7 linked regions of the Homo sapiens genome follow. The protein of the gene in region 3 interacts with the protein of the main gene of each other region in a pairwise test. Each region holds a gene or a part of one and is shown on either strand. Other genes may lie near its edges. The genes, in order: KIAA1328, ZNF423, CEP290, CEP131, CEP162, CCP110 and MAPK10.

Region 1 (4,135 bases), on a different chromosome or scaffold from region 3:
TAGCACACAAAAAAATACAAATTAAACTGTACAATTTAACTACTATTTATATAGCATGTACATTGTTTTAGGTATTATAAATAATCTAGAAATGACCCACTAGTAGGCCCACTATACATTTGGTATATAATGTGTCTGTTTGACTTCCCCATAAAATATACATTTGTTGGGAAATTCTAGATTTGAAGGAGGTAAATATTTGGGTTCTTAATATAATGAGATGAAAATACATTACAAATTATTAGAAAGGATAGAGGCAATTTCAAATATTGTTATTAAAAATATTGAAGTAGTTTGTTTAGAGTTTTATATATTTGAAAATAAATTTGTCATGGATGTAGCTGAAAGTAAAAGGTTTTGTTGGCCGCTTGCGGTGGCTCACACCTGTAATCCCAGCATTTTGGGAGGCCAAAGCAGGTGGATCACAAGGTCAGGAGTTCAAAACCAGTCTGGCCAACATGATGAAACGGCCGTCTCTACTAAAACTACAAAAAAAATTAGCCAGGTGTGGCGGCGGGCACCTGTAATCCCAGCTACTCGGGAGGCTGAGGCAGAGAATTGCTTGACCTAGGAGGTGGAGGTTGCAGTGAGCTGAGATCAAACCGCTGCACTCCAGCCTGGGTGGCAGAGCGAGACTCTGTCTCAAAAAAAAAAAAAAAAAAAAGTTTTGTTTGCATATTTAGAATCACAGAAATATAACATATAAGGTTGTTGGACAACACCTCATAAAATTAAATCAATACCAATTTTATTCTTTCATAGATGGAGCCAGACATTCTTTTATGTTTGAGGGTACAACACTGAACAAAATAAAACAAAAATCATTACCCTCTTGGTGCCTACATTTTAGTGAGATGAGATCAGGTCATGAATAAGGAAAATATATGTTCAATGATTTTTTTTTTTTTTTTTGAGTCAGAGTCTCGGTCTGTTGCCCAGGCTGGAGTGCAGTGGTGCCATCTCAGCTCACTGCAAGCTCCGCCTTCTGGGTTCACACCATTCTCCTGCCTCAACCTCTGGAGTAGCTGGGACTACAGGCACCCGCCACCATGCCCGGCTAATTTTTTTTTTTTACATTTTTAGTAGAGACAGGGTTTCACCGTGTTAGCCAGGATGATCTCGATTTTCTGACCTCGTGATATGCCCACCTCGGCCTCCCAAAGTGCTGGGATTACAGACGTGAGCCACTGCACCTGGCCTATGTTCAATGATATTGGTGCTGTGGAGAAAAAATAAAGCAGGAAAGAGGCAGATAGTAGCGGGAGGTAGGTAGGTTGTGGGAAGAGAGAGTTTTGCAATTTCAAGTACCTATATGGTTAGGAAGTGAAAGCTTCAATCAGAAGGTGACATGACATGACATATGACATAAGTCCTAAAGTGAGCCATGAAGATATTTGAGGAAAGAGCTTCCTGGGTAGAAGAAATCATACCTGCAGAAGCTATAAGGTAGGAGCTTGCATAGCTTGTTAACAATTATAAGAAAGCCAGGAATGAGTGAGAGGAATAGTAGCAAGTGAGATCAGAGATGTAACAAGTTACAGGGATCAGATCTTGAGCATTGCAGGCTGTTGTTAATACTTTGGCTTTTAATCTAAATTAGAAATGACATAACTATTAAAATGATCATTCTAACCACTGTGTGAAAAAATAGGCTGTTAAGGGAACATGCACAGAAGTGACAGAGAGCAGTTAGGAGCTTATTGCAATAATCCTGGGAGAGGAAAAGTTGAGTTGGATCAAGGTGACAGTTGAAAACAGTGTGTTATAATCATAGCCTTTCTAAATTTCTCCTTTTGAAATTCAAAATAGTTCTTTTTGTCTTAAATTTCTTCTACTTTTTAAATAGTAGGGCTTCTTGGGATATTTTATGAATACACTGTAGAAGAATAAATAATGTCTTTGTGTTTGCATGATTGACTTGCCCTCAGTGTTTGTTCTTCAAAGCTAAAGTCTATCTTGAAATTATTTACTCTTCAGAATTGTCAGTTCCTCAGTAATGACCAAACTGGAGCACTTAAGTTTTTGTTTACAAAAGGAAAGGAACCTAATAGTAGAGTATATATTGCAGGGTAACCCACTTGAGAGTGGATAAAAGTTTCATGGAACAAGACCTTCCAAGATTTTTATAAGATGTGTAGTTGTGAATATATAAAGGTGAACTTTTAGAGAATATTAATTTTGCTACATTTAATTCAATTACTTTGCTTTCTAACTTTGTTTTTAATTCAATTACTTTGCTTTCTAACTTTGTTTTTAAAAGTTAGTTACAAATTCCCAGGTCAAAAGAAATTATGAATTATAAGAGGTATACAGAACAGAAGCAGCATTTGGATGCCGGATAATATTATTGTATTTTCCTTCATGTTCTCCTGCGTAGTTTCTGATGAAGAACAATCAGTAGTATACGTTCCAGGTATGATTTTCTATGTTAAAATTTGGGAAGCTTACTTTGGTCCTTAAATGTTAGAAGAAAATAAAGCTATTAGAACAATGTTGCGGGTATAAATAACTGAATGCAGAGCAGTACATCAAAACCTAAAATTTGTTTTTTTTGAATATTTGTCATAACCCTATTAAGGTTTGAAATACTGGCTTATCTTTGGGATTGGCTGGCCCAATCAGCTTTTAATGAACTTGTAGAACACTTCATGTGGCAAGGGGCAAAAGATTCTTTTCTTATTTTTTCTTTTACAAATGATAGCCAAATTTAATATTTCAAATAAAAGTGTGACTACTGCTTGATACAGGGTATATGTAAGAGGCACTTCAAGTTTAATGGTTGTAACTAGATGGTAGTAAAGCAACTATTGAAGGCACCCTCATTATATAGGGTGAAAAATATCATTGATTTCCCCTAAGTTAACATATATTTGGCATATCGTAATTTATTGGTTTTAATGTGACTTATGAATATTTACAGTACCCTTTACAAATATTTCAGTTAAGCTGGATGTGGTTGCTTGATCCTGTAGTTCCAGCTACTCCAGAGGCTGAGGTGGGAGGATTGCTTGAGCCCAGGAGTTCAAGTCCAGCCTGGATAGACATAGGAAGACCCTGTCTCTTTAAAAAAATAAATATAAAAACAAATTTCAATTCAATCTTTAGTGTATTTCTTTAAAACATATTCTTTTTATGATTCATATATTAAGAGCTTTAAAATTAAGTTTATAAAGTAAGAGAGTTTCCTCCATCAGGTCCCTTAAAGTAGAGGATTCCAAGGAAGGAGTTGATGGGGGAGGGTTTAAGATAATAAGGTATAATTTTGAAATCTTGTTTAATGGAAATCCTTAGGAATTTCTGCTGAAGGAAATGTCAGATCAAGACACAAGCTGATGAGTCCAAAAGCTGATGTTAAACTTAAGACTTCCAGGGTGACTGATGCTTCAATCTCCATGGAGTCCTTAAAAGGCACAGGAGATTCAGTAGATGAACAGGTTAGTATTTTTTTCGTCTTTTTTTTTCCTTGCTCTCCAGTCTTTATGAGTGCTGACCAAAAAGGGTAGAAGAACCTTTGAAAGTATACTAGGTGATCAACAAACATTCTTAAAAGATACAGAGGATTCCAGGATCCTTTGATGATGCCAGGTTTGAGCCTAAATTATCTGGATTACTCAAGGGTTTTGCTCCAAAACATCTGACTTGCTGTAAGCATTAGCCATGATAATGTATTATCTTGATATGTCTCAAAAGAACTACATTCTGATCTGTGTGGCATTGGTAAATCAAACTGATGAGAATTGCTTTTTAATTAGGCATCCTTTTTGATTTTTATTCTTGTGAATTTATTTGATAGATGAACCCTCGTAAAGATGAGGGACAAATCAATGACTAGGCATAGTAATAGTATCGGTGCATTCCTTTGGCACATGTCCTATCTGACCAGTTTATTTTACTTTAATTTTTGTTATATTTTCCCTCTGCAACCAGAGTTGTTCAATACCACTTCACACTCACTAGGATGTCTACACAAAACTTGTATATGAATGTTCTGGAATCTATAACCTGTGGACCAAATCCTTCTGCCTGTTTTATAAATAAAGGTTTTTTGGAATACAGCTGTGCTCATTGTTTTACATAATTGTCTATGGTTGCTTTTGTGTTACAATAGCAGGGTTGCTACAGAGACTGCATGCCC
Region 2 (4,135 bases), on a different chromosome or scaffold from region 3:
GGGAGCTGAGGGCAGAAAAACTGAGATGAGAAGCTTCAAAGCTTCTTGAAGAGTTGTTCCAAAGAGTGAACCTCACTCACACAACTAATCCCAGATGGTTCTGAAACACCCCAGGGACAGAGGTGGTGTTGCCCATCTGAGGGAAGGACTGTGGCTGTGGGGTTTTTTGAAGAAAGAGGGGTGGTATTGGAATCACAATATCCAAGTTTTTTGAAGACCACTTTGGTTCCTGGGATGAGAGGGCTTCTCTTACTTCTGGAAAAGGGAGCAGGACTTCACACTTCTTGGCCAAGGTCCCAGGCCCAACCCTCAACTATGCAGCCAGATGAACCACCAGGTAGCTTAACCATCTCAGCTCCTACTTCCCTCTTTATCATTCTGAAATGTTATGATGAGCTCTTGCATGGTGCACACTTTTCTTTCCTTTTACTTTTAACCTACCTGTGTCTTTATATTTATAGTCCAGGCCCTGTAGATAGCTTTCAATTGAGTCTTGCTTTTTTCTTTGCATCTAATCTGACAATCTCTACCTTTTGATTGAAATTTCAACTCCATTTATACTTAGTGTAATTGTCAATATGGTTGATTTTAAATCCTACCATCTTTTGAATTAATTTCTATTTTATCCTACCTGTTCTCTGTTCCTATTTCCCTCTTTCCACCCACACCCACAGTTCCCTAAGTAACTACAGGCCTTTGCCTGTGCTGGTTCCTCTATGTGCAACACCCCCTCCATCCTTGACTCAATTCAAATGTCATCTCTTCTGAGAAGACTTCTCTTTTCACCCCAGAATGGGTCCAGGACCCCCTCCACATCCCTGAACTTATGCTAAAGGACCCTGGGTAATTAATACATTGTTGTGTCAGGGTGGATTGGTTCATCTGCTCCCCTCTTGCACCATGAGCACCCAGAGAGCCAGGAATGTGTTTTGTCTACCTTTGAGGCAGCACATGAAGTGCTTAACAAGCATTTGCTGAACACATAAAGTTGCAGAATAACATATGCAGAGGAGTCTATTCAGGCAGAGGTGACAAAGAGAACCAAAGATGACTTCAGTGTCCTGGACCCACACCACCCTAGCGCAGGCCTTACCTAGAGTCAGTGCATAATAATTATTTAACTTTTATTACGATTATTATTGGCGCTAAGAAAATGCTGCTTGAACAAATGAATGAATGAAGAAACAACTGGAGAAGCTGAAGCTGGATGCGTCAGGCTCCAGGACCTGCTCTGACAAAACCAGGGGCCTTTCCCACAGTGTTTCAGAAGACCTGGGGGATTCGCTGTGTCCTGAGTACAGGCCACAGCCTGGGGCCCAGACACAGGCACTCTGCATGGAAAGGCCCTGGGAAGAGCTAGGTAAGTCGGGGGCAGGGTGGAGAGAAAGACAGGGCTGGGGAGTCCAGCCTTGCCACAGACAAAGGAAGACGTCTAGGCCACAAGGAGACTACAGGGCCTGAGGTCTTCTCAGGAGATGCAGCCCAGAGTACACATCTCAGGTCAACTCCAGGGCCATGGTCGTGGAGATGAACCACCTCGGGTGTCTCCAGCATCAAAACCATCCCTTCTGTCTCACATGTGCCCCCACCTACTCTGCTTGGCAAAGTGCAAGAGCCTTTGGTGGTTGAATGAATGAACGAATGAATGGAATGAGTGAATTAATGAATGAAGCACATCCCAGGAAGGGAAGCTTCATCACAAGGAAGCCCATGGGAGGCCTGCTGGATGAGGACCGCCCAGGCCTATAGGTGGGTGGGTGGGAGGATGGGGTTGGTACCAACCAGCAGCAATGGCTGCGGGCAGATGACCACGTCCCCCCTCCAAGGATGGCGATTTGCTTGGGTGCAAGTCTCTAGAGGCTGCAGCCATGGCTGGTCCAGAGGCATGCAGGGAACAGTCCATGATCACAGTGACTTGGTTGATCTTCTCAGGGGCAGGTGAATAAAGGGAGCTCACTGTGCTTGGAAAATACATCCCCAGGGGCTTGGGCAGGAAAACAGGCTGCCCTCAAATGCCTCTCTGCCACCCCTTGGTAATAGGAAGAACACTGCCCAATAACTGAGCCCCTCCTGGTGGGGCACTGGGCTTCATAGGGTTCAGAGGGTTCCCAAGGGAAGGGCCGGGAGAAGGGCTGACCCCTCACATACACACAAGACACACACACAGATGTGCAAGCACACGTATGCATTCACATGCTCACTTTCACCCCAACTCACCAGCAACACACAAGACCTTCACAGACACACCCGCAACCCCTACACACAGCAACCTGTAACACAGATACATATGTGCAACCCCCAGAGAAGCAGGGCCATCCACATGGGTGAACAAGGCCACACAGATGGGCATGTTCACACTCATCCAGAGACCCTGCCTTCAGCTCACTCACCACAACCCCAGTACACACACCGGTACTCCCAAATACGCCCACAGACATGCATGCAGCTTCTGACACAAGTATACACACAGACCCATCCCCACACGTACCACACACCCTCATGTACACACATGTAGACTCATAAGTGCTCACATGTGCACTCACACATAGGCACATACACACACAGGCTCACCAGCCCCCAAACCCTCCAAGCATGGCTGGACTCCAGTCCTCACCCCAACATCTATTCCTAGTCTATCCCCACTCTCAACCCCCCTGGAGACCCCCTCCTCCTGCAGCTTCAGCCCCCACTAGGAGATATAATTACAGAAAGACAGAACTTGGCACTCAAAGCACCTCCCCTGCCATAAGCCCCTTCCCTGGGGCCCAGCCCAGGAGAACTAGAGCTGAGTTCCAGGGCCTGTGGCCAGGGCTGCCTCCCCCAACACAGCCCTGAGCAACTGCAGAGGGGGGCCCCGGGCAGGAAGAAAACACACTTGAGAATGGCAAAGACAGGAGAGGGAGGGCAGGGAAGAAATGGCCAGGCCCTTCAAGACAGGAAGGAGAGAAGGAAAAGCCAGCCAGAGCTGTTATATTTCCATGATCGTGAGCACTGCCAATGTTCACTGAGCACTTGCCATGTGTGGGCAGCATTTATGCTAAATACTCACAAACCCTCTGCAAGCTCCACCCTAGGGATGGGGTAAGTGGAGTTTCAAGAGGCTGCATCACTTGGTCAGAGCCTCTTGCTGGTGAGTAGGAGAACTGGAATTCGATGCCCACTGTCTGAGCTGCCATTCTCAGCTCCATGTCCCAGATCTCCTGCCAGGCCTGGTCTAGGTGACAGAAAGCTAGTGGGATCTGGATAGGCCCTCTAACCTTGATATCTGTTTACTTGGCTGTAAAATGGGTATGAGAACACCTGGCCTGTCCCACCTAGCAGAGAAAGGCACCGTGGGGATCTGCAGGATCAATGGATGGCCAGGGTCTGCCCGTGCTGGTCTCGAGTTGGGGTGATGTTGTCATTACCCATAAACAGAGGGGGAGGTGGAACTTCAATGCTTCATGCTCCAGCCGACAGCAGCCTCAGCCCCACAGGAACCCAGTCCTCTGAGAGCTGGTTGCTATGGATACACTCCCGAGGGTCCCAGCCTGCCAGCCCCCAAGCCCCTGTGAAACCCCCAGAGTCTGTTCTTACATGAGTGGGTCCTCAGGGAGGGAAGGGGTGGGCTAACTGACATCTGGGCCCCTGTCCCCAGGTGTGCCCACACAGGGGGCAAGGCCCCAGAGAATGCCGCCTTGCCTGGGGAGGTACCTGGGCTTTGTTTCTGCAATGGCCCATCTCCCCAGGCCTCCAGGCAGGCAGAGCCATGATTTTCAGCTCATCCCTGCTCACACAAGGCCCAAAGGCAGGGAGAGGAAGGCCTGGGGGCCCCCAGGAAACACGGTCCCCTTGAGTTTCAGTCCCTGCACAGCCGCGCACAGCTGTGCATCCTTGGGTATATGGCATCACCTTTCTGAGCTGGAGCCCCTCTTTACCAAAACACAGGCCACAGCAAGGTTCCTGGATTGTTGCTACAGAGATGACCTAAAAGTTGGTGCCCAGCAGAGCACCACTCACATAGTAGGGGCTTTCACAAAGTGGTGCTTGATGCCGGATGCAGAGCACTCCAGGGAGGCTCACACAGCCCAAGGCTTTGGAGGCTCTAGAAACAGCTCCCTGGCCATCAGAAAACCCAGCACCATGGTGGGCAGTG
Region 3 (4,135 bases):
TTTCAAATTTTAAAATTATTGTTGGCTGGAAAAATTATAAGGATGATTGTAATCATGGTTATTTGTTTATTCTGTATATGTTCTACATGCCTATTATGTGCCTTATATAGTACTAAGGACTGAGCATATGGTTGTGAACAAAATAAGAAGTTAACTGCTGGATGGAGCTTATAGTCTTGGGAAATATACAGAAAGATTACTAGTAACTGAGGTGGAGGGTGGGTGGGGATTTGAGGAATAGTGACGAAAGGGTGTTATAGAAGTAATTTTTGACAAAGCTGAAGGCTAAAATATGAATGTATTGTTGAAGAACAAAATACATTGAGATTCCTGAGAAGGTAGGAATGTGATACAAATGGATCAGCCTTTGAAAGGAGGAATACCCTTTTCCTTTGTGTTAGGAGAGGAGGATGAGTGGATGAGCGTGGGAAGAGTGGATGTGTATAGAGGCTTTTATGTTTGTAGGCATAATGCTTGGAAGTTGAGGGGTTGGTGATGACATCTTCTGTTAAAAAGAGTGGGAAATGGTGTGGTCACATTTTAAGGAAATTAGGTAAAATTTGAAATATATTGGAGACAGGACTGGAGAGTTGGGGATCTGGAGTCAGACAGATTTGAGTTCTAGTCCTGATTCTTCTACTCGTTAACTCTCTGAACTTGGATGACCTATTGTTTTTGATTGTATATCCAGCTCCTGGGAAAATGCCAAGCACTTTCAATAAATACTAAATGAATTATGGAGTTGGATCAGTTCTGTGTTAGTGTTTAGCTAGGTAGCTGCTGTAGAATAGAAGGGTAGCACAGTTGAAGATATTGGTAGGAAAGTGGTTGAAGTGATGATTATGAAGTCTTAACTGAATAGATAAAATCAAGATTGGGGTTGGGTGGGCAGAAGGGTAGGGATATGGAGGGAGAAGATGAGGGGTTAGAGTGTCCTGTGAGGTCGAAGGACAGGCATAGTGGGAATAATTGAAAGAATGTTCTGGTTGGACAAGGATCTGATGTGGGTGTGGGAGTGAGAGACTATAGTGAATTCAAGAAAAAAATAGACTAGAACAAAAGTTATGTGGAGATTGCTTAGTGGGCATTTGATAGACATCTGTGGGCCACATGCTTAAATTCCCAGTGCATTTTGCGGAGTTACTGGAAGGTTGGTGGCTTGTTTCTACCATGAGTAGGTAAAGATGGAGAGCAGGATATTTTGTGAGAAAGCAGCTGAAGTTTCTATAGGATGATGGAGGAATGATAGGAATGATCACCTGAAGTTGCAGGGTGGGGTAAACCTAGAAGCACCAACACCTTCTTCTGACCCTCATGTATTTGGAATCTGAAAGAATGAGCACCTTCCAATTGAAAGAGTTCCAAGGGCATTAGTATACTAAAGGATCCAAATTGCAGCTAAGCCAAGGAGATGGAAAGGAGGATTCAGTAAAGAATCTGAGGATGTGAAATATTAATTTATCTTGGAAGAGAATTTTAGAGAGCACAATGGAATGCTTTTTGGAGGAGAGAAAGAGTAAGAACAATTTGGTTAAGGTAGAGGAATAACAGAACTATAAGGTGAAGAAATGAATGTGAGACACATTAGATGACCAAATGATTTGATGTTCTTGGCCATGACCTGAATTAACAAGACTGTGAGGTAAAATGGATTTAATCGGCTACAAATCTTAAGATAACCAAAACCTGAGCTGTTTAATATGGTAGCACTAGCACTAACCACTTGTAGCTATTTATATTTACATTGGTTAAAATTAAAATGAAAAATTTAGTTCTTCAGTTGCACTAGCCACACTTCAAATGCCCGAACATAGCTACATGTAGCGAGTGGCTATTGAACTGGACAGCACTGACAGCATGTCCATTATGCTAGAAAGTCCTATGGGACAGCACTGGTCTAAACAGTGCATGGTATGAGAGAAAGGGCAGGTTAAGGCACTCAGCTTCACTGACTGGGGTGGAGATTCTGATGGTTTGTACTCAGGTTCCAGATCCCTGAGGCTCAGGAACCTTTGCAGTTTAGTCTGGTTACCTGTGGCCCAGTGGTTACAACAGAATGATTAACAGTCAATTCTTTGCATCTCTGGGTGGCTCAGGAAAAATTTAAGGAGTTATTAGCTGTGAACTAACCTTAAGTAAGTTAAATTAAAAAAAAAAAAGTTCTTAAGCTAATATGATTTTAAATATCTGCACTGAAGTATAATGCAAATTTAAATTCAGCATAATTATTTGCTTGTTGTTGACTCATTTGAACCTCAAAATATAATGGGATTAATTTATACTTTGGGTTTATTACTTTAAGATGGCTCAGCAGTCTGCAGGTGGACGAGATACTCGGTTTTTACGTAATGAAATTTGCCAACTTGAAAAACAATTAGAACAAAAAGATAGAGAATTGGAGGACATGGAAAAGGAGTTGGAGAAAGAGAAGAAAGTTAATGAGCAAGTAAAGCACTTTTTTTTTCCATGAATCTTCACTGTTCAAGTTACCTGGCTTTTTATTATTATTGGTAACAATATCAATTTTTATATTGTATGTTATATTTGAAAAATGATGTACACTTATCTCTAAGGTTTTATATCACTGTTCATTTTGTCATCACCAATTTTAAAATATAATGGTACTTCTAGTGAATATGACTTGAAGATTAATTCTTTATATTTGGAAGTACATTTTTCTCAGGACATCAAACTTGTTACCTAAAATTAATGCTTTTGTCTGGAAGATTGGTATCAAGTAACTAATAGATTTTCATAAAGAAGTGATCTTTCTAGTGCCATAGTTTATTTTGGGTAAAAGTTATATTTGTTCATTTCAATGTATTTATATGATTAGTAGATTCGCAAATGAATCTTTCGATATATTCAATAATGGTTAATTAAATATCTTGTTTTTGGTTGTACCTTATTTTATGTGAGATATATATATATATGTATAGTTTTTGAAAAGTTGTGTTCATGTCAGCAGTTTATAAATCACATATTTAAAATAACATTTTTAATGCATAGTTTTTATTACCTCGTTATTCCTTGTTATAAACTAATAATTCTTGCAGTGTTCACTTGAATTTAGTTTTAGGAAAAAAGTTTTTTGCAGATCAACTTGTATTTCCTGGAAGAAAATTTCCTATTTTACCTCAGCTTCCTATTTAATGTATTATTTATTTATTTACTTAACATTTATTTGTTTTTTATTTCACCTGAACTGTTAGTAAACTTAGTAAAATTTGGTGCCTACATGTGGTAACTGTCCTGTCCCTTATACTCAGAAACGTTTTCCACCTTTGTGTCCTTTAGGTCATTGTTGTGTTATATTCCATTTATTTTATTTTGTCCATTGTTCTCTCAGAAATTGAGGGTCATACATTTTAAGAAAACAATGATATGCTATTTAAGAGAATGTATCATAAATTGATTTGTAAGGAAAAGTATCCCCATTCTTCATGTATGTATTTTACTCTAAAATGTTGAAGAATCATATAGAAGTTAGCTATGAAAACAATGTGGTAGAGAAAGTATGGATCGATGCCACTTAAATGTTAGGAAGAAGCTCTTAGAGCATTATCTGTTTAGCTAACTGCAAAACATAGCAGACATGTGGATTTTTTAATAGTCATCAAGGATCTAACTTATAATATACACTGGTAGAATTGCTTAGGGGGATGTCTGTGGTTTTCTGGACTTTTGTTCTTCTATATAGACCTGTATCAGTTGACTTATCATTCATACCACACACCCTTAGCTAATCAGAACTACCTTGTCCATTTATATCTTAGACTATTGTCTTTTTTCATAGTCACACACAGAGAAAACTTGAATATATGGCCTGTGTTCCTTTTTGGCTGCTCAATTCCTTGAGATGAAATATGGGTATGGGTTGCTTTGGCAATTACTTCTTTGCCGTTAACCAGTCATTCAGTTTTATTGAGTCTTTACAGCATACCAGAGGCTGCTAGTTACTAGTGATATAGTGGGCAACTATGTTCTGGTTCTCAAGAATATTCATAGTCAATAATAAGCATAACATAGTGATAATATGATACTTAGGGAGATACATAAGGTCATATTCTGGCATACTCTGGAGAGAGATACCGTAATCAGCCTTGAGGTGCAGGATGTGATCTGTAAACTGAGA
Region 4 (4,135 bases), on a different chromosome or scaffold from region 3:
GGGCCTTGGCTGAGGAGGCTTGTAGGGGGTCCTGGGGAAGCTCCAAAAGAAATAGACTCCAGGCAGCTGCCTCTGAGCCTTCAAGGAGAGTGTGGGCTCCTTGGGCTAGGCCTCAGGGGACCCATGAGTGGAAGGGATTGGGGACACATTTTTCCTCCGGCATTTAGAGCCTTTGCCAAGGGAATAGTCTCAGGGGAGAGACCGTGTGGTTATTCTCCAGGGTTGGCACAGGAAGAATTCTTGCCTTTTTTTTTTTGAGATGGAGTCTTGCTCTGTCACCAGGCTGGAGTGCGGTGGCATGATCTCGGCTCACTGCAACCTCTGACTCCCTGGTTCAAGCGATTCTCCAGCCTCAGCCTCCCGAGTAGCTGAGATTATAAGCACGTGCCACCACGCCACCACGCCCGAGTAATTTTTGTATTTTTTTCGTAGAGACAGGGTTTCACCATGTTGGCCGGGATGGTCTCGATCTCCTGACCTCATGATCCACCCGCCTTGGCCTCCCAAAGTGCTGGGATTATAGGCGTGAGCCACTGCACCCAGCTCAATTCTTGCTTTTTAATTTATTTTTAAGTTAGAGGCAGGTTCTCATCTGTCACCCTGACTGGAGTCCACGATCATAGCTCACTGCAGCCTCTACCTCCTGGGCTCAAGAGATCCTCCCCCTTCAGCCTTCGGAGCAGCTGGGACCACAGGTGCACAACACCACTCCTGGCTAATTTTTAAATTTGTTGTAGAGATGAAGTCTCGCTGTGTTGCCCAGGCTGGTCTCAAACTCCTGGGCTCGGGCAATCCTCCTTCCTTGACCTCCCCAAAAGCCCTGGGATTACAGGTTTGAGCCCCCACACCTGGTCCTAAAATTTACCTTAGTATTTATCAGTTATATGTTCATACACAGCCAAAATGTCAAACAGCACCATAGGCTTAAAATGTGCTGCCCCTCCTACCCTCCCCACCCCTGCCCCTCCTACCTCCCCTCCCGCTGCCCCTCCTACCCCCGCGCCGCCCCTCCTACCCCCCCACCCCTCCTACCCCCATCCCGCTGCCCCTCCTACCCCCCACCCACTGCCCCGCTGCCCCTCCTACCCCACTGCTGCCCCTCCTACCCACACTCTTGCCGCCCCTCCTACCCCTGGCGCCTGCCCCTGAGGAGCAGCATCTTTTCAAGCTATTTCTTCTGGTGTTTTTTTGTTTGTTTGTTTTTGTTTTTGAGACGAAGTCTCGCTCTGTCGCCCAAGCCAGAGTGCAGTGGTGTGATCTCGGCTCACCGCAACCTCCGCTTCCCGGGTTCCAGTGATTCTCTTGCCTCAGCCTCCTGGGTAGCTGGGACTACAGGCGTGTGCCACCACACTAGGCTAATTTTTGTATTTTTAGTAGAGACGGGGTTTCGCTATGTTGGCCAGACTGGTCTCGAACCCCTAACCTTGTGATCCACCCGCCTCAGCCTCCCAAAGTGCTAGGATTATAGGTGTGAGCCACTGCGCCCGGCCATTTAGTGTTTTATTGAAAACATTTATGAATACATGCCATGCTGCTCATTCCTGAACAGCTCAAAATCAGTCCTGGTAGGTTATTCACACCACCCAAATTGGCAGATGAGCCGCGCTCCAAGAACCAGCTGTTGAACGTTTGTGAGTGCAGGCTGGTGCCAGGTGCAGGCCAGGCTGGTGCTGGGCGTGGGCTGGTGCCTGGTGCGGTCCGGTGCAGGTGTGGTCCGGTGCAGGTGTGGTCCGGTGCAGGTGCAGGCTGGTGCAGGTGTGGTCCGGTGCAGGTGCAGGCTGGTGCAGGAGCAGGTTTCGTGCATTGCTCTGCTCTCTGCTTATCCTCATTCCCATCATGTTCTGTTGGTTTGATTTTGGGCCTCTGACATGTTGGTCTTTGCCCAGATGTCTTGGTGGTTCTTGTTAAAAGGGAGGCCCTAGGAGTTAGCTGGAAGCCTATTGCCTGGTGGCTTCACTTCGGGGCACTGGTGCAGAGAGCAAGGCATTGTTGAGTATCCCCACCTACCAGTGTCTGTGGGACCCTCCTCACAGGCTGAGTCTCTCCAGAGACAAACCCCCAGCCCGCCCCAGGGTTCGAGTCCTGGCTGCCCGGTTGCACTGCTGGGGAGGGGTGGCGGTGGCTGTCCTGGGTGAATCACCCATCTCTGCCCCACCTGCAGGGCCAGCTGGGGAGGGCAGGGTGGATGCTAGCGGCTCAAGTGAGGGAAGGGGCTTTGCCGAGCAGCCAGATTCTCCCCTTTGCCTCAAAGCCTGTCCATGCCTGTGGGAGAACAGTGTGTCTCCGTGGGGGCACGGGACCTGCCAGCTCCTCGCCCTCCCTCCCCACAATGCCTGGACCCTCCCTTGTGTCCCAGTTGCTCTCTGCTGGCCCTTCTGTTTCTAATCCTCCAGGTCTGCAGATGCCCCTTTCCTGCAGTCTCCCCATCCCTCCTGTCAGCCTCGGTATTGGTCCTGTCCTCCCGCCTTCCTGCGGGTCTGCGGAGGGGCAGAGGCAGAGAATGTGGCTTCCATCCGTCGTGTGGGATGGGGCTTCGCTTCTGTGAGTCTGCTCTGGAAGCTGATTGTGAGCTGCTGGCCTGAGCTGCTCCCCCCGTCTTGGGCACGTCCAGCGTTCATGCCTCGATTCTATCCCCTGCCCCGTGGGAGCCCCTGGTCCAGCTTTCCTGTCCTGGGAAGAACCCCATCATCAGGGCGCAGGCTGTGGAAGGGGCCTGGGGACACTGGACGACAATGCTGCCAGCACGTAGCAAGCACTGAAGGCCTTTGTTCCCTCCCAGCCCGTGCTGCGAGTGTAGCTCTGAGATCTCAGGCGTCCCCTCCAGAGGCCTGACCATTCCTGTCTCTCTTCCGGCCTGGCAGGAGCAACAAGGGAGCAGTGGGCAACTGCGTCACCACCATGGTGCACAACCGCTACACCCCCTCGGAGAGGGCGCCTCCGCTCAAGAGCTCCAACCAGACTGCCCCCTCCCTCAAGTAAGGTCTTCTGGGGAGGCCGCGGGGCTGCGGGGTCCGACCTCAGTTAGGGCATGTAGTCAGTGCACCTGGGGTCCGACCTCGGTCAGGGCACGCGGTCAGTTCACACAGGGTTCTACCTTGGTCAGGGCATGCGGTCAGTGTGCATGGGGTCCAACCTCGGTCAGGGCACGTGGTCAGTGCACGTAAAACCGCGTGGAGCAGCTGTGAACCGGGCTCCCCATCCACGTCCGCCGCCCTCTTCTGTTCTTGGGTCGGCAGCTTCCCACAGAGAGAAAACAGCCCAGATGTGGCACAGTGAGGTCTGGGGCTCACCCTGAGGTGGGGCCCCCAGGAGGAAGCCAAGGCTTGTGCAGAGCCCAGAAGGCGTCACAGCGGGGGTGGACCGAGCGGGGCAAAGGAGCCCCCGAGTCCACCACCACATGGTCTTGCGGGGATTGGGGATGGCCTTGGGGTTGCTCAGGGGTCCCTCAGGCTCTGGACTCCTGTGACTTTTGGGAACTTTCTCAATGGAATTTTTTTTTTTTTTGAAATGGAGTTTCATTCTTGTTGCCCAGGCTGGAGTGCAGTGGCATGATCTCGGCTTACTGCAACCTCTGCCTCCCAGGTTCAAGCGATTCTCCTGCCTCAGCCTCCCGTGTAGCTGGGAGTACAGGTGCCCGCCACCATGCCGAGCGAATTTTTTTGTGTTTTTAGTAGAAATGGGGTTTCACCATGTTGGCAAGGCTGGTCTCGAACTCGTGACCTCAGGTGATCCGCCCGCTTTGGCCTCCCAAAGTGCTGGGATTACAGGTGTGAGCCAGGGCACCCAGCCTCTCAATGTAACTTTAGTGAGAAGTTTTTAAATGCAAAGAGCTCATTATCCTGGGTACCAGTGAGTGGGACCTTGTCAGGGCACAGGTGGTCCAGAGGCCAGGATGTGGCACGGGAGAGCCGGCCTCGCACCTGCCGCTGTCCCCCTCTGCCCCGGCTGCCAGCCTGCCAGCACCACTTCCAGGCTCAGTCCTGGGACTTCCGGGAGTGGGCACCTGCTGCCTGTGGGCAGAGCTGTTCCCCTGGGCGGTGAGACGAGGGTGTTTTCTTCTTACCTGTCAGCAACATCATCAAGGCAGCCACCTGTGAGGGCAGTGAGAGCAGCGGCTTTGGGAAGCTGCCGAAGA
Region 5 (4,135 bases), on a different chromosome or scaffold from region 3:
GCAATCAGATATTGTTTATTGAACTCAGGACCTGTAGTATTTGAATATGGACCTTAGGATCCTTTTTAGGTACTGTTCTTAAACATTGTTTATTACTAACTGAATACTATATTAGCCTTAGAATGATTTCTTGTTTAAGAATTTACAGGTTACCTTAAAAGCTGAAAATTGGAACAGAATATATATTAATCACTTTTTTTATAATTTAATATATATTGCCAAGTTTTTATAGCAGAGTTAATCTTTTAAAATCTGATTTAGATTAACAATTATAAAATCCTCCGTGCAATTTATATTATTCCATTGATACTATAATATCATGATATACATTGTTTATAAAAAATGTGCTCTGAAAGCACACTTAGTCCGCACCAAAATGTTTCATAATGTTATCAGCTGCTCCTTGATTTGTCATTTAGAAATTTTGATTGATTATTGCTATGAACATTTAACAGAAGAATTTATTTAAAACTAATAAACTCTGAAAGTTATTTCTATCCACATTCTCACATTTATTTAGCTCCATTTGTCAATTGACATGAGTCTTGGGTTAATTGGCCATCTGTGTCAAATTTAGTAGAATGTTGATTATGGAGTGGCAATCTTTCTGAATGCAATCAGTTATAGTGAAACAGCTGTGTTATAGTGTAGTCCATCAGCCTATTCTGAGATCCTCATTTTTGTGTTTCCATTGTATTTTTAGTTATTGGACACAATTGATGAGTATACATTTAACTTTACATTTGTGGTGCATTTATACATTGTTTATAATATTTAGAAATCTTATCTGGAACAAAACTCATCAAGCCTGCAGCTTTGGATAAACCAGCTCACAAAACTGAAAGTTGCCTGTCTACTCGTAAGAAGTCTGAAAATCCCACAGAAACTGATTCCTGTATTCAGTTTCAGACTGTAGGTATTCAAAATTAATAATCATAATGTTTTATGTTCTAAAATTATATTAAAACTAAATTATATATAACAAAATATAATAAGGACTGAAATGTCTTTTCCTTTGAGTGATACTGTAATCACTCTTACTAAACAGTTAATTTTCTTATATAATAGAACATTATTAACCATGTCCTTTTTATTCTTTTTTTAATTAACCACCTGTGTTCAAATCTTATACATAAGTCTACTGTAATGAAGTAATGCTTTGTCTTGAAAGGATTCCTTAGGATACTGTGGTGAGAACAAGGAGAAGAAATTACTTATGTTTAAAAGAGTTCAGGAAGCAGAGGATAAATGGAGGGGTGCGCAAGCCCTAATTGAGCAAATTAAAGCCACATTCTCAGAAAAGGAGAAAGAACTAGAAAATAAGTTGGAAGAACTAAAGAAACAACAGGAAAAAGAACTCTTCAAATTGAATCAAGATAATTATATTCTTCAAGCCAAGGTACTAGATACATTGTTCTGGTATTTTTTTATATTTATTAAAAAAAAAAAAAGCTGAATTCCCTGCTAAATACATTGTCATCCTTGGTTCCTAGAGATGTTTGACTTGATGTATTTGCTGTATAAAATATAGAATGGTTCCAAGAGTGATTCCGTACATGAGAGCCTAAATTTTGAACCCTTGGGGGAGAAAATTAAATTTAAATTGGCTCATTTTTATGGTTTTCTTCTGTTAGCAGTCCTTTTTAAAGAAAATCAGTTCATTCTGACCTTCAAAGAAATGAAAGTTTGAGCAAGAACTGCTATAGAAGGTATAGACCCAGAGGATGACATTGTGTAGCATTTGTGAGTTCCTTTACTCACCCAGCACCATCAGCACAAAACAGCACTTTGCTGATTTAACTAGTTATGTCACATTCTAATATGTTCAATATTATAAGACAGTTTTCGATCTAAATAGGAGTTTCCTGTTATTCTTTCTCACTTCTCACCTTATCATTTCCTTCCCCAAATAAAACAATTTCTGCAATTTCTCCAAGTTAAGCAGCTTTGAAGAAACAAACAAAAAACAAAGGTGGTTACATTTTGGAGAAGCAGCTGATCCTGTCACTGGAGAAAAGTTGAAGCAAATCCAAAAAGAAATACAAGAACAAGAGACACTTCTTCAAGGATATCAACAGGTATGGCAATTCTTCAACATATGGCAAATTTACTCTTGATCTTTTAGTTATAAAAATAAGGCAGGCCAGGCACAGTGGCTTATGCCTGTAATCCCAGCACTTTGGGAGGATGAGGTGGGCGGATCACCTGAGGTCAGGAGTTCGAGACCAGCCTGGCCAACATGGTGAAACACCATCTCTACTAAAAATAAAAAAAATTGGCTGGGCATGGTGGCGCACACCTGTCATCCCAGCTACTTGGGAGGTTGAGGCAAGAGAATCGCTTGAACCTAGGAGGCAGAGATTGCAGTGAGCTGAGATCACATCACTGCACTCCAGCCTAGGCAACAGAGTGAGACTCTGTCTCAAAAAAAAAAAAAAAGGTATATTAAAATACTTCTCTGCTTATTTAACAGATAATGGTAATCCTGGCAAATAGGAGATAATAATTTGACTAGTCTGTGTATTTCTCATGAGGAGAATTAAATGGTAAAAGCATGGGTTCTGGATTAGAAAAATGTGGTTTTGAGTCTTAGCTCTACCACCTGCTGTGTGCCTTGGGCATCACTTAATCTTTCTAATCCAGTTTCTTCATCTGTGAAGTGGGGATAATAATATATAGGATCCCTAACTTCCACTGGTTTGACTTAACAAAGTTTTAATTTATGATGGGCTTATCAGGATGTAACTTCATCGTAAGTTTTACTTACTATTTTTTGACTTTACATTGGGTTTATCAGGGTATTAAGTGCATTTTCAACTTAGGACATTTTTTACTTACTTTTTGGCCTTATTGGGATATAGCTATTTGCGGGGCAAGCAAGTTGAGGAGCATCTGTACACTCTTAGTGTGACACACAGCAATCGATCAATGAAAGTTACCTGTTATTTTTAATAGCCAGTTTCTTAAAAACTGTCCTATCTTTTCTTAGTTTCCTGTAATGCTCTTCAGTAGACAGTATTGGCTGGTTTTGCTATTATATTCAGAAATATGAATCTGAAATTAATTGCTAATGCCCTGAGGGTGAAAAAATTTTGAATTTAATGCAAGAAAATCTTTGGGTCCTATAGAGGCAGATGTTTGCAATGTGTAATGACATCTTGGTATCTTGGTGTTGCTAGCCTGACAGTCAACCAGGACAGGTTTAGTTATCTTCAAATCAACATAAGACTTTATCTTTGTTCTGTGCCTCCCACACCCTTTTTTCTTACTTCTCTCCTTTCTTGTCTCTCATTACATTCTTCTCTTTTGACAACTGTAACTTGAACCTTGAGCCTTAGTAACATGCATTATCACCCAGGGACATCATCAAAAGCATTGCCCCATCAATGATTACAATGTTTGCTGTAACTGAATTGGAATGATTTTGCAGGACACACTGCCTTCAGTTACTGGGAACCATTCAAATTCTTCTGCCAGTTTGATCTTGCCATTAAAAAACAGAGGTTTTTAAGAAAATTTAACAGACCCATAAGTATGCCGACCAACCCCTCCAACAGAGACAACACAAAATTTATGTGTCTAAATAGTAGGGGGAAATGTTTGTTAATTCTTCATGTATTTAAGCACAGACTGTCGCCAGGCACTATTCCAGACATGGTAAAACAGTCTATAGTTTGCATTAGATACTCAAAGCCCTTGGTTTGCATCTGATTTTTAATTTTAAACAGGTTCATAAGCCAGGGAGGGCATCTAAGTGCAGATTGGCACCATCTCTTCTCCCTCTGATCTCAACTGGTTGAGTCACTCTTTAGCTCTTTAGCTCAAGCCTTGTGGTGAACTGGGTCTGTCCTCTGCTCTGCCTTGTCCTGACAACTTTCAGAAACACCGGTCTTTAACTCCCTGTTTACAGTCAGTAGCAGATACAAGTATGAGCACCCGTAGGTACATCTGATTACCTCACCACTGGCAGCCAGACTTCCAGAATCTTCCTCCAGCAGTGATTTTTTTTTTCCCCTCTCTTGAGCCAGAAACAGAAAAGAATGTAAAGGGTCTCACTGGGTCTTTCCACCCGGGTCCACACAGTCAGGATGTGGTGATTCCTTCAGCCACTCTCCCACTTACCTCCTGTGAAATG
Region 6 (4,135 bases), on a different chromosome or scaffold from region 3:
TTTTTATATTTTTAGTAGACAAGGGGTTTCGCCATGTTGGCCAGGCTGGTCTCGAACTCCTGACCTCAAGTGATACACCCATCTCGGGCTCCCAAAGTGCTGGGATTACATTTTTTTTTTTTGAGAGAGGGTCTCACTCTGTTGCCCAGGCTGTTGTGCAGTGGCTCGATCTCGGCTCACTACCTTTGCCTACTGGGTTCAGTGGATCTTGGCTCACTGCAACCTTCGCCTCCTGGGTTCAAGGGATCCTCCTGCCTCAGCCTCCCACATAGCTGGGATTACAGGCATCCACCACCACGCCCAGCTAATTTTTGTATTTTTAGTAGAGACGGGGTTTCGTCATGTTGGCCAGGCTGGTCTCAGCCTCCCAAAGTGCTGGGATTACAGGCATGAGCCACCCCGCCCAGCCCTATCTTCAAAGAATTCCAAAAATCTTTAACCTGTTTATCAAACTTCACTTCCAGTTCATAGGAACTACAGGGACTAGAGAAACAAGTTAAATAACACTATTAGGAAACAATGGGACAAATCCAAGATCTAAGGAATTCTACAAGACAATAGCTCTGGTCTCTTTAAAAATTCAGTATCATAGTTTTGTTATTTTTTTAAAGACAGTATCTCACTCTGTCACCCAGGTTGGAGTGCAGTGGCATGATCAGGGTTCACCGCAGCCTCAGCCTCCCGGGCTCAGGTGATCCTCCCACCTCAGCCTCTAGAGCAGCTGAGACTCCTGGTGCGCGCCACCACACCCAGCTCTTTTTTGTATTTTTTGTAGGGATGAGATTTCACCACGTTGCCCTGACTGGTCTCAAACTCTGGGGATCAAGCAATGCAATCCACCCACCTCAGCCTCCCAAAGTGCTGGGATTATAGGCGTGAGGCACCATGCTCAACCAATAAAAAAAACTGTTTTTAAGACGTACAGTAGCTATTTTAGATTAAAATAAAGAAACATAACAAGCAAATACTAATTGTGAACTTTGGATCCAGATTGGGGGAATAAAGTTATAAAAGGCATTTTGAGCACAAATGGAAAAATTTAAATATGAACAGAATTATTAGATATTATTAAAAATTATTAGTTTTCTTAAGATGTGATAATGGTATTGGGGCTTTACATAGGAGAATGTCCTTATTTTTAAGAGATGTACACCAAAATATTTAGGGGAGCAGTGTCAGGTCTCCGTGGTTTTCAAATAGCTAGGCAATTTTTAAAAATGTCATATGTACACACACACATAGATGTATATAAAAATCACAAACACAATAAAGCAAAGATGACAACAATGTTAAAAATTATTTAATCTAATGGTAAATCTATGGGTGGTCACTGCACTATCCTTTCAACTTTGCTGTATGTTTGAAAGTTTCATTACAAAAAGTTGGCAGTTAGCTCTGGTGTCTTTAAAAATTCAATTCAATTAATTAAAATTAATCTCTTAACTCCTGTTATACCAAAAAATAAATTTAAAGCTCACTTTTTTCTAATATTAGTTTGTGATTTAAAATAAAGTCATATGCATTTTTAAAATATCCAATTAGTATCAAAGGGTGTATGATGAAGTGTCTTCCCTATTATCCTATATTCTCTCACCACTCCCCAGAAAAGGAATAGCCATCCTTTGAAAAACCCAAATGGTTAACTTATATTGGGTACCTCTTATGATCCAGGTGGTATTCTAACCATTTTATATCTACGAATTCATTTAATCTTCAAAATAGCCTTATGAGGTAGGCACTATTTTATCCCCATTTAACAAATAAGAAAATGGACCACAAGTTTACACAGCAAGTAAGTAGCAAAGCAATGATTTGGACCCAGGCCAGAAGGCTCCACAGCCTAGACTTTTTTTTTCCTTCTTTTGGGATAGGGTCTTGCTCTGTTAGCCCAGGCTGGAGTTTTTTTCCTTCTTTTGGGATAGGGTCTTTCTCTGTAGTCCAGGCAATGATGCAATCCTGACTCACTGCAGCCTGCAACTCCTAGGTTCAAGCGATCCTTCCGCCTTAGCCTTTGAAGAGCTGGGACTACAGGCACATGTCACTGCGCCAGGCTAATTTTTTAACATGTTTTTATAGAGATGAGGTCTCACTATGTTGACCAGGCTAGTCTTGAATTCCTGGTCTCAAGCAATCCTCTTCCTTCCGGTCTCTCAAAGCATTGGGACTATAGGTGTGAGCCACTGTGCCTGGCCCAGAGTCTGGACCTCTAATCATGACTCTATACTGCCCCTGACAGCATGCTGCACACGGTGTTTTACACTAGATCATTGAGATCCTTCCATGCCTCAACATTTACATCTGCCTTACTGTAATGGTATGTATGAGAGTTTATAAAATAGACCATAGTTAAACTACTCCACTACTGATGGACATTTAGGTGGTTCGTCAACCTTTGCTATTTTAAACAATGCTAATGTAACTTTGTACTTATTTCTTTGGGCTCACATATAATTGTAGGATATACCCAAAAATGGAACTGCTGACCCAAAGGCTATGTATGCTTTTAAATTCTACCAAACTGCTCATCTAGAAATAAAATAAACTGATTCTCTTAGCAAAAGTGCATTAAAAGTGCATTTTCTCCACAATCTAAGGAACACAAAGTTCTATTAGGTCTTGGCCAATCTATAATAGTAAGTAAAAAATGCTAATTCATTTGTATTTCTCTAATTCTGAATGAGGGCATCTCTTCAAATGTTTATAAGCCTTTCTTTTGTTTTTCCACGAACTGTTTTAGTTGTTCACTACAGAAAAAAACTATTTAAAAACAAAGCAAGTTTACCAGTGGAGAAAGGATAGCCACTCCATGAAAGCGAATAAGTGAGATACTTTCAGACTGAGCAGGGAGAAAGCTCTCTGTGGATAGTGATGCTTCTTGTATTCTGGCAAGACTTTTTTCACAGAACTTCTCATACTCCTCCATCTTCCCACAGTCACACTACAAGAGAGAAAAATGTTATTTTTAATGTACTGGGAAAAACAGATCTTAATTATTTGGCAGATTTTGTAGAGCATGAGAGAGTCCCTATAATTCACAATTCCTATAACTGGTCCTCCCAGAATTGTCTTACTGATCAGGAGCTAATTCTTGGGTATGGTAATTCACCTCAAGAACCTGTCCAATTAAGATTTACTTTATATATTAAATATTTCTGAATATTATTGCATGTAAATCAATCTTTAAATGGGATTAATTTAGCTAAGAATTCAGTAAAACCTTCTTAAAGGAAACAAAGTTCTGTAAATCTTTACTAACTTCACATTGTAAAACAGGATATTATATTTTCTTTAACAGGACTTATCTACACAAGAAAAACTATATCATACAAAGGTACAAACACTGTAGTAAAAAAGCCTACTTAAATCAAAGAATATTTACTTTTAAAAATTTTCTATTTTGAAGTTCAGAGGTTACTCTCATATCTTTTTTTTTTTTTTTAAAGAGACAAGGTCTCACTATGTTGCCCAAACTGGATTCCAGTGACTATTCACAGGTTCAGTCACAGTGCACTATAGTCTCAAACTCTGAGACTCAAGCAATCCTCCTGCCTCAATTTGCCTATCTTAACACTATACTTGGACTGCATGAGCACCAGCCAACTCAGTCAGAGGTAAAAAAGAGCAAATCGATTGGCTCTGATATTAATTATATTTTATTGTTGAAAATTGGAACCATCACCAAACTACTTAAAACAATCCCAGTAATTTCACAGTTTCTGGGAAATTGTGATTATGAAAATACAAGGTAACCAGGAGGGATTAGGCATCATATTCATTCATTTAGCAAACAGTAAATGTTGATTGCTTATTTGCACAGCATTATGTGTGGCACTGTTTCCTTTAAATAAGCAAGGGAAAATAAAAAGACATTATCAGAATCATAACCAGCAAGGGTATGAACTATGGAAACAGAAAATAGAATACAATCATGTTCCTTTATGTCTTCATTTTAAAATAATTAGCTTCTTAACAAAAAAAGAGAGGGCAGGGAAATTCAATTCATGATGTGGGATATGCAAAGATGAAATAGGATATGTCCTCGGTAGGCCTCAAAGTACTTAAAAATTCAGTACACCAAAGTATCAGGGACAAATTATAGTGCAATGAGAAATGGGAAAAAAAAAATAGTCAAAAT
Region 7 (4,135 bases), on a different chromosome or scaffold from region 3:
ATTTATAGGAAAATTAATAAGATTTTCCTTGTTAGGATATCCTACAGGAACATCATAAGCAAAACAAATTTGCCCAACCTAAGTAATCTAGAAAAACCTCCCATGTTTAAAGGCATAAATATATTTTTAAGGTTTTATTGTGGTTTCATGTAAATGAATCTGTTTCTTTGGATGTAAGCCTAGTTATAAATTCTTTTTATACTGATACTAAAAGCTAAAGACAAATTGGGTATTTACTTGTTTGTTAAATATGGGGATAGATGTTCTCCCTTCATGCTCTAGTTCTGGCCTCAGGTCACATTTGTAGCCAAAGGACTTTCAGTGGAATTGGTGTGTTCAAATCGAATGATTGCTTGGTTGCTTATCAGAATAAAGGACTCAAAGCAAGAGAGACTTCCTTCAATTAGAATGAGAAGCAAACACATTGTTGTCTTAAATTCTTTCTTCATTGCCCTTTCTATTTCCTCTTACAGTCTCTTTTAAGCTTTTGGTTGGACATTGCAACAATCATGCAGAAAGAGGCACGGAAGTGTCCAGTAGTGACAAGAATGGAGTACAATGCTCTATTTGCTGCAGGACTGCTGAGTGCCTTCCTCCTACCACACATGCATCTATTATTGCACCTTCTTCTGAGGACCAAGGACTTGTGGAAAAAGTTGGGCCTATAGACTAGTAGGGGAGATGCTTACTGGTAAAGAAGAACAGAATCCATTTGCTTCTTTGGCATATTGGATATATTTATTGCATTACATAAGCCTGAGATGAGACACTGTACTGCTGATTCAGATAAAAAGATCATGCTGCATATTGATTGTTTAAAAAATGTAACTTAGAATTGGAGCCCATCTTTTCAGAAACCTGTACGTGTTTGCAGAGTGAAGTTGTAAGGTTTTGACTCAAGATTTTTCAGTTTGAGTACATTTTATCCTCATGAACCGATCAAGGCAAAGAAGGGGAAAATACAAAACCTGTGTTTTGCATATCTTTTGTTTTCTGTATTTAATAGGGAGAAGCTGTATTTCTTATTGTGAATCTTGGTAGAAACTCTTAAGAGGAGACATCAGGTAATATTGAAAATCACTAAATATAAACATTTTAGGTTTAAAAAGTAGACCTCACACATATACTATTTCTGGTAAAGGATTTTCTAGTTTATTTGATGTTTTGGATCCATATCAAGCCACTATGGCTTTTCTTACAGTTCTTATCTCTGGTGACTATGAGATGTAAAATCCTTGAGGCTTATGGAAATAATGCTAGTAGGAATGGAAATTGAAGTTTTCAATGGAAAAAGAAATGAATACAGTCTCCTGAGAAGCATCCCTAACCACAGCTGCTCTAAAACCCTGCATGGTGTGCAGGTTTAAGGCAAAGCTTCCCTATAAGGCAATTGGGCATTTGCAGTGACCTGCACAGTAATAAACAGGATTTTCACTACCTTGTGTTTGTACACGTGTGTGTGTGTGTGTGTGTGTGTGTGTGAAGAAAAACAAAAACAAAAACAGCAGTGACTTTAAAGTTCTAGAAATTCATCTTAGTGACTTGTCTTCATAGAAATAAAACTGACTCCTGTTTGTCTGTGTTAACCTGCCTGGGTGCCCTATGTGCTTTCTGAAAATGGATTGCTTAAAGCAATTGTCCTCTTCTTATACATTGGAAATAGGATCTGAAAGCATTGATAGTGAAGGAAAGCTCTTAGGTTAGGTCTGTTTATTTGGCAATGTTTATTCAGTGTTTGTAGGCGGAAGCTCCAGCACAGCATTTATATAATATAGTAATTGCCTATTCTTCTATTACCTGTATTCTCTACTAAGGTTTAATCCCCATCAGGGACTGACTTTTTCTGTTTGGCACACAATAGGGACACACCAAATATTCATTGAATGAATATCTCTCATGTACTGAGTTCTCTGCTAAGTGCTATGGTAGAAAAAATTGGGAAACTGTAACACAGTTTCTGCCATTTGGAACCTATACTCATTTGGGAAGATGAGGCTAAATAACAATAAAGATGGTATAAAATCAAGGGCCCATATTAGTGTTTTGATAATGAGTGCAATAGAAATTCAGAGGAGAAAGGAATTTACCTCCTCTGAAGTGATGGTAGGTGACAATGGGGCTACACTGGGGTGTTGGGGTGAGGTGGTGGGATAGTGAGAGGGTGGTAGTCCTAGGAGTAATTGTGAGCACCTGGGCAGGAAAGAAACTCTTACTTGGGGTAAAGAGGAGGCCTATTTTGGGTATGATGACCATATTTTCCAAACTAGAAATAAAAACTTATGGTTTGACATTGGGTAGAATGTTGCAGACTGCCACATATTCTGAAGAATCTTGTCTAATATAATGTTGGGAAGTAACAGGCTATAATGGTGAAAAAGTAGGTTAGTAACTAGAAGAACATAAATACAGGTCTCTTCAGATGAGCTCCAGCTTAGGTTTACTTTCTTTTGCATACTTCAGAGGTTTTCAAAATTCTCCTCCTTTATTGGTACCTATGTAACCATTGTTCCAATGAAATCTTGTATGAAAAGCAGAATATGTAAATCTATGTAATAGTGGAGCTGTCCCAGTTGAGGATGAGTGGGGTGCCTTGTATTAGAAAACCAAATTCATATCACAAGACTAATTATATTAACTGAAATAAGAATTACTAATTTAGTTTATGCTCAGATATTAAAATAGTTGTTCTGGTATTATAACATCAAAGTTCTTGTGCTTGCAATAAATGATGAATAGAGATAATTACCTTGAGATATTTTCTTTCCTCTGCCTACACTCACCCACCCAGTAACCAACTGTCTTTGATGTCAGCTTTTTGGTTTTCTAAATACAAATTTAAATCTTAAAATCAAACTCATCTGTTTTTTGGCTTTGCTTTCAGGCTAGTGTGAGAAACACCAACAGCAGGCCCATCTCAGATCTTCACTATGGCAACTTATGCAAGAAACTGTTGAATTAGACCCGTTTCCTATAGATGAGAAACCATACAAGCTGTGGTGAGTTGCCAATTTAAAAATATTCCTTAGCATGAAAACTAGGATCTATATAGCCAATTTAAATATTGCATATGGTTTTGTACATGGAGCTGGAGAAATACTGCTCCAAATAATTTCGACTACAGAAGTGAAAATCAATAGAACAGAAGTTTAATAGTTGGTGTGGTACTACTAATACCACATACAGTAGTGAAAAGTCTTGAGGTGCATGGGTGCAGCATATAACACCATGATACTACCACCATGGATGATACCTGCAATTAACATTTTCATGTGGCAGAGTAACAGTTGGGTACCATTATTTTTAAGTGACTTTTATTATTTGCAACATTGTACTATATTTTACAGATTCATCTCCTTTAGTAGAAAAATTGGTTCTGAGCTAAATTATGGTTTTCTTTCAGGAACACACACACACACACACACAATTTAGCTCTTCTGAAATAAGAGAAGAGAAATCACAGTTTTATAAAACTCAATTCATGGGCATTTTAGCCTACAAATCCTTTTGCTTAACAAAGCAATGTTAAAAATAGATACAGTTGCTCTGCCTAGTTGGAATGACTTTAAAACTTATTACTTTATAAAAATATCAGCACACACAGGTAGAATGTCTTTTTAAATCAAATACTTGATGCTTCATAGTCACCAAAGTCAATAATCAATAGATTCCAGCAGAGATGAACGAGTTATAATCTGTCAAATAACATCTTTGAGAACTAGAGTATGACTGTGGTGCTTATAAGACTCCAAAAGAAGCTATTTTGAGCTAGTGATCAATATCTTTCTTTCATTTGCCTAGTGGCTTATATAACTGTAGATAGGTAGGCTGCCCTGTGAATTAATGCACAGCCTATGACTGCGGAAGACTGATGAAATTAATCCTAGAGTTATTTCATATAGTGAATTTATAAAACAATTCATAAAAAACAATCCATCTACCATTATATTGAGAAAGCAGATCTAATAGCATCACTATACTGTGCTTAATTAACATGTATTCAATGAGCGTTATAAATAATTTTATGCAATTGCCAATAACAAACTATTTTTGACCTAAAATAAGGGCAATTTTATATGGTTGAAACTAATATATTATGTGTTACTCCCAGTGATGTAGAAAGCATACCATGTTCTCT

Evidence for each region.
Region 1: the proteins of CEP290 (region 3) and KIAA1328 interact in binary tests that used the Homo sapiens proteins (3 or more experiments, as listed by UniProt).
Region 2: the proteins of CEP290 (region 3) and ZNF423 interact in binary tests that used the Homo sapiens proteins (3 or more experiments, as listed by UniProt).
Region 4: the proteins of CEP290 (region 3) and CEP131 interact in binary tests that used the Homo sapiens proteins (3 or more experiments, as listed by UniProt).
Region 5: the proteins of CEP290 (region 3) and CEP162 interact in binary tests that used the Homo sapiens proteins (3 or more experiments, as listed by UniProt).
Region 6: the proteins of CEP290 (region 3) and CCP110 interact in binary tests that used the Homo sapiens proteins (3 or more experiments, as listed by UniProt).
Region 7: the proteins of CEP290 (region 3) and MAPK10 interact in a two-hybrid assay, tested with the Homo sapiens proteins (one large-scale study listed by BioGRID and IntAct).

The regions. Positions count from the first base shown.
Region 1 is NC_000018.10:36,831,943-36,836,077, forward strand, and holds part of KIAA1328 (protein hinderin), read left to right. Parts: exon of another isoform or gene 1-1,446; intron 1,447-2,260; exon of another isoform or gene 2,261-2,331; coding exon of another isoform or gene 2,332-2,377; coding exon 2,378-2,413; intron 2,414-3,291; coding exon 3,292-3,434; intron 3,435-4,135. UniProt on the Homo sapiens protein: Competes with SMC1 for binding to SMC3. May affect the availability of SMC3 to engage in the formation of multimeric protein complexes.
Region 2 is NC_000016.10:49,628,770-49,632,904, forward strand, and holds part of ZNF423 (zinc finger protein 423), read right to left. Parts: intron 1-4,135. UniProt on the Homo sapiens protein: Transcription factor that can both act as an activator or a repressor depending on the context. Plays a central role in BMP signaling and olfactory neurogenesis. Associates with SMADs in response to BMP2 leading to activate transcription of BMP target genes.
Region 3 is NC_000012.12:88,134,954-88,139,088, reverse strand, and holds part of CEP290 (centrosomal protein of 290 kDa), read left to right. Parts: intron 1-2,302; coding exon 2,303-2,446; intron 2,447-4,135. UniProt on the Homo sapiens protein: Involved in early and late steps in cilia formation. Its association with CCP110 is required for inhibition of primary cilia formation by CCP110.
Region 4 is NC_000017.11:81,202,334-81,206,468, reverse strand, and holds part of CEP131 (centrosomal protein of 131 kDa), read left to right. Parts: intron 1-2,861; coding exon 2,862-2,975; intron 2,976-4,070; coding exon 4,071-4,135. UniProt on the Homo sapiens protein: Component of centriolar satellites contributing to the building of a complex and dynamic network required to regulate cilia/flagellum formation.
Region 5 is NC_000006.12:84,171,991-84,176,125, reverse strand, and holds part of CEP162 (centrosomal protein of 162 kDa), read left to right. Parts: intron 1-778; coding exon 779-912; intron 913-1,171; coding exon 1,172-1,399; intron 1,400-1,937; coding exon 1,938-2,078; intron 2,079-4,135. UniProt on the Homo sapiens protein: Required to promote assembly of the transition zone in primary cilia. Acts by specifically recognizing and binding the axonemal microtubule.
Region 6 is NC_000016.10:19,526,670-19,530,804, reverse strand, and holds part of CCP110 (centriolar coiled-coil protein of 110 kDa), read right to left. Parts: intron 2,939-4,135; 5' UTR 2,924-2,938; coding exon 2,783-2,923; intron 1-2,782.
Region 7 is NC_000004.12:86,353,391-86,357,525, reverse strand, and holds part of MAPK10 (mitogen-activated protein kinase 10), read left to right. Parts: intron 1-2,881; 5' UTR 2,882-2,996; intron 2,997-4,135. UniProt on the Homo sapiens protein: Serine/threonine-protein kinase involved in various processes such as neuronal proliferation, differentiation, migration and programmed cell death.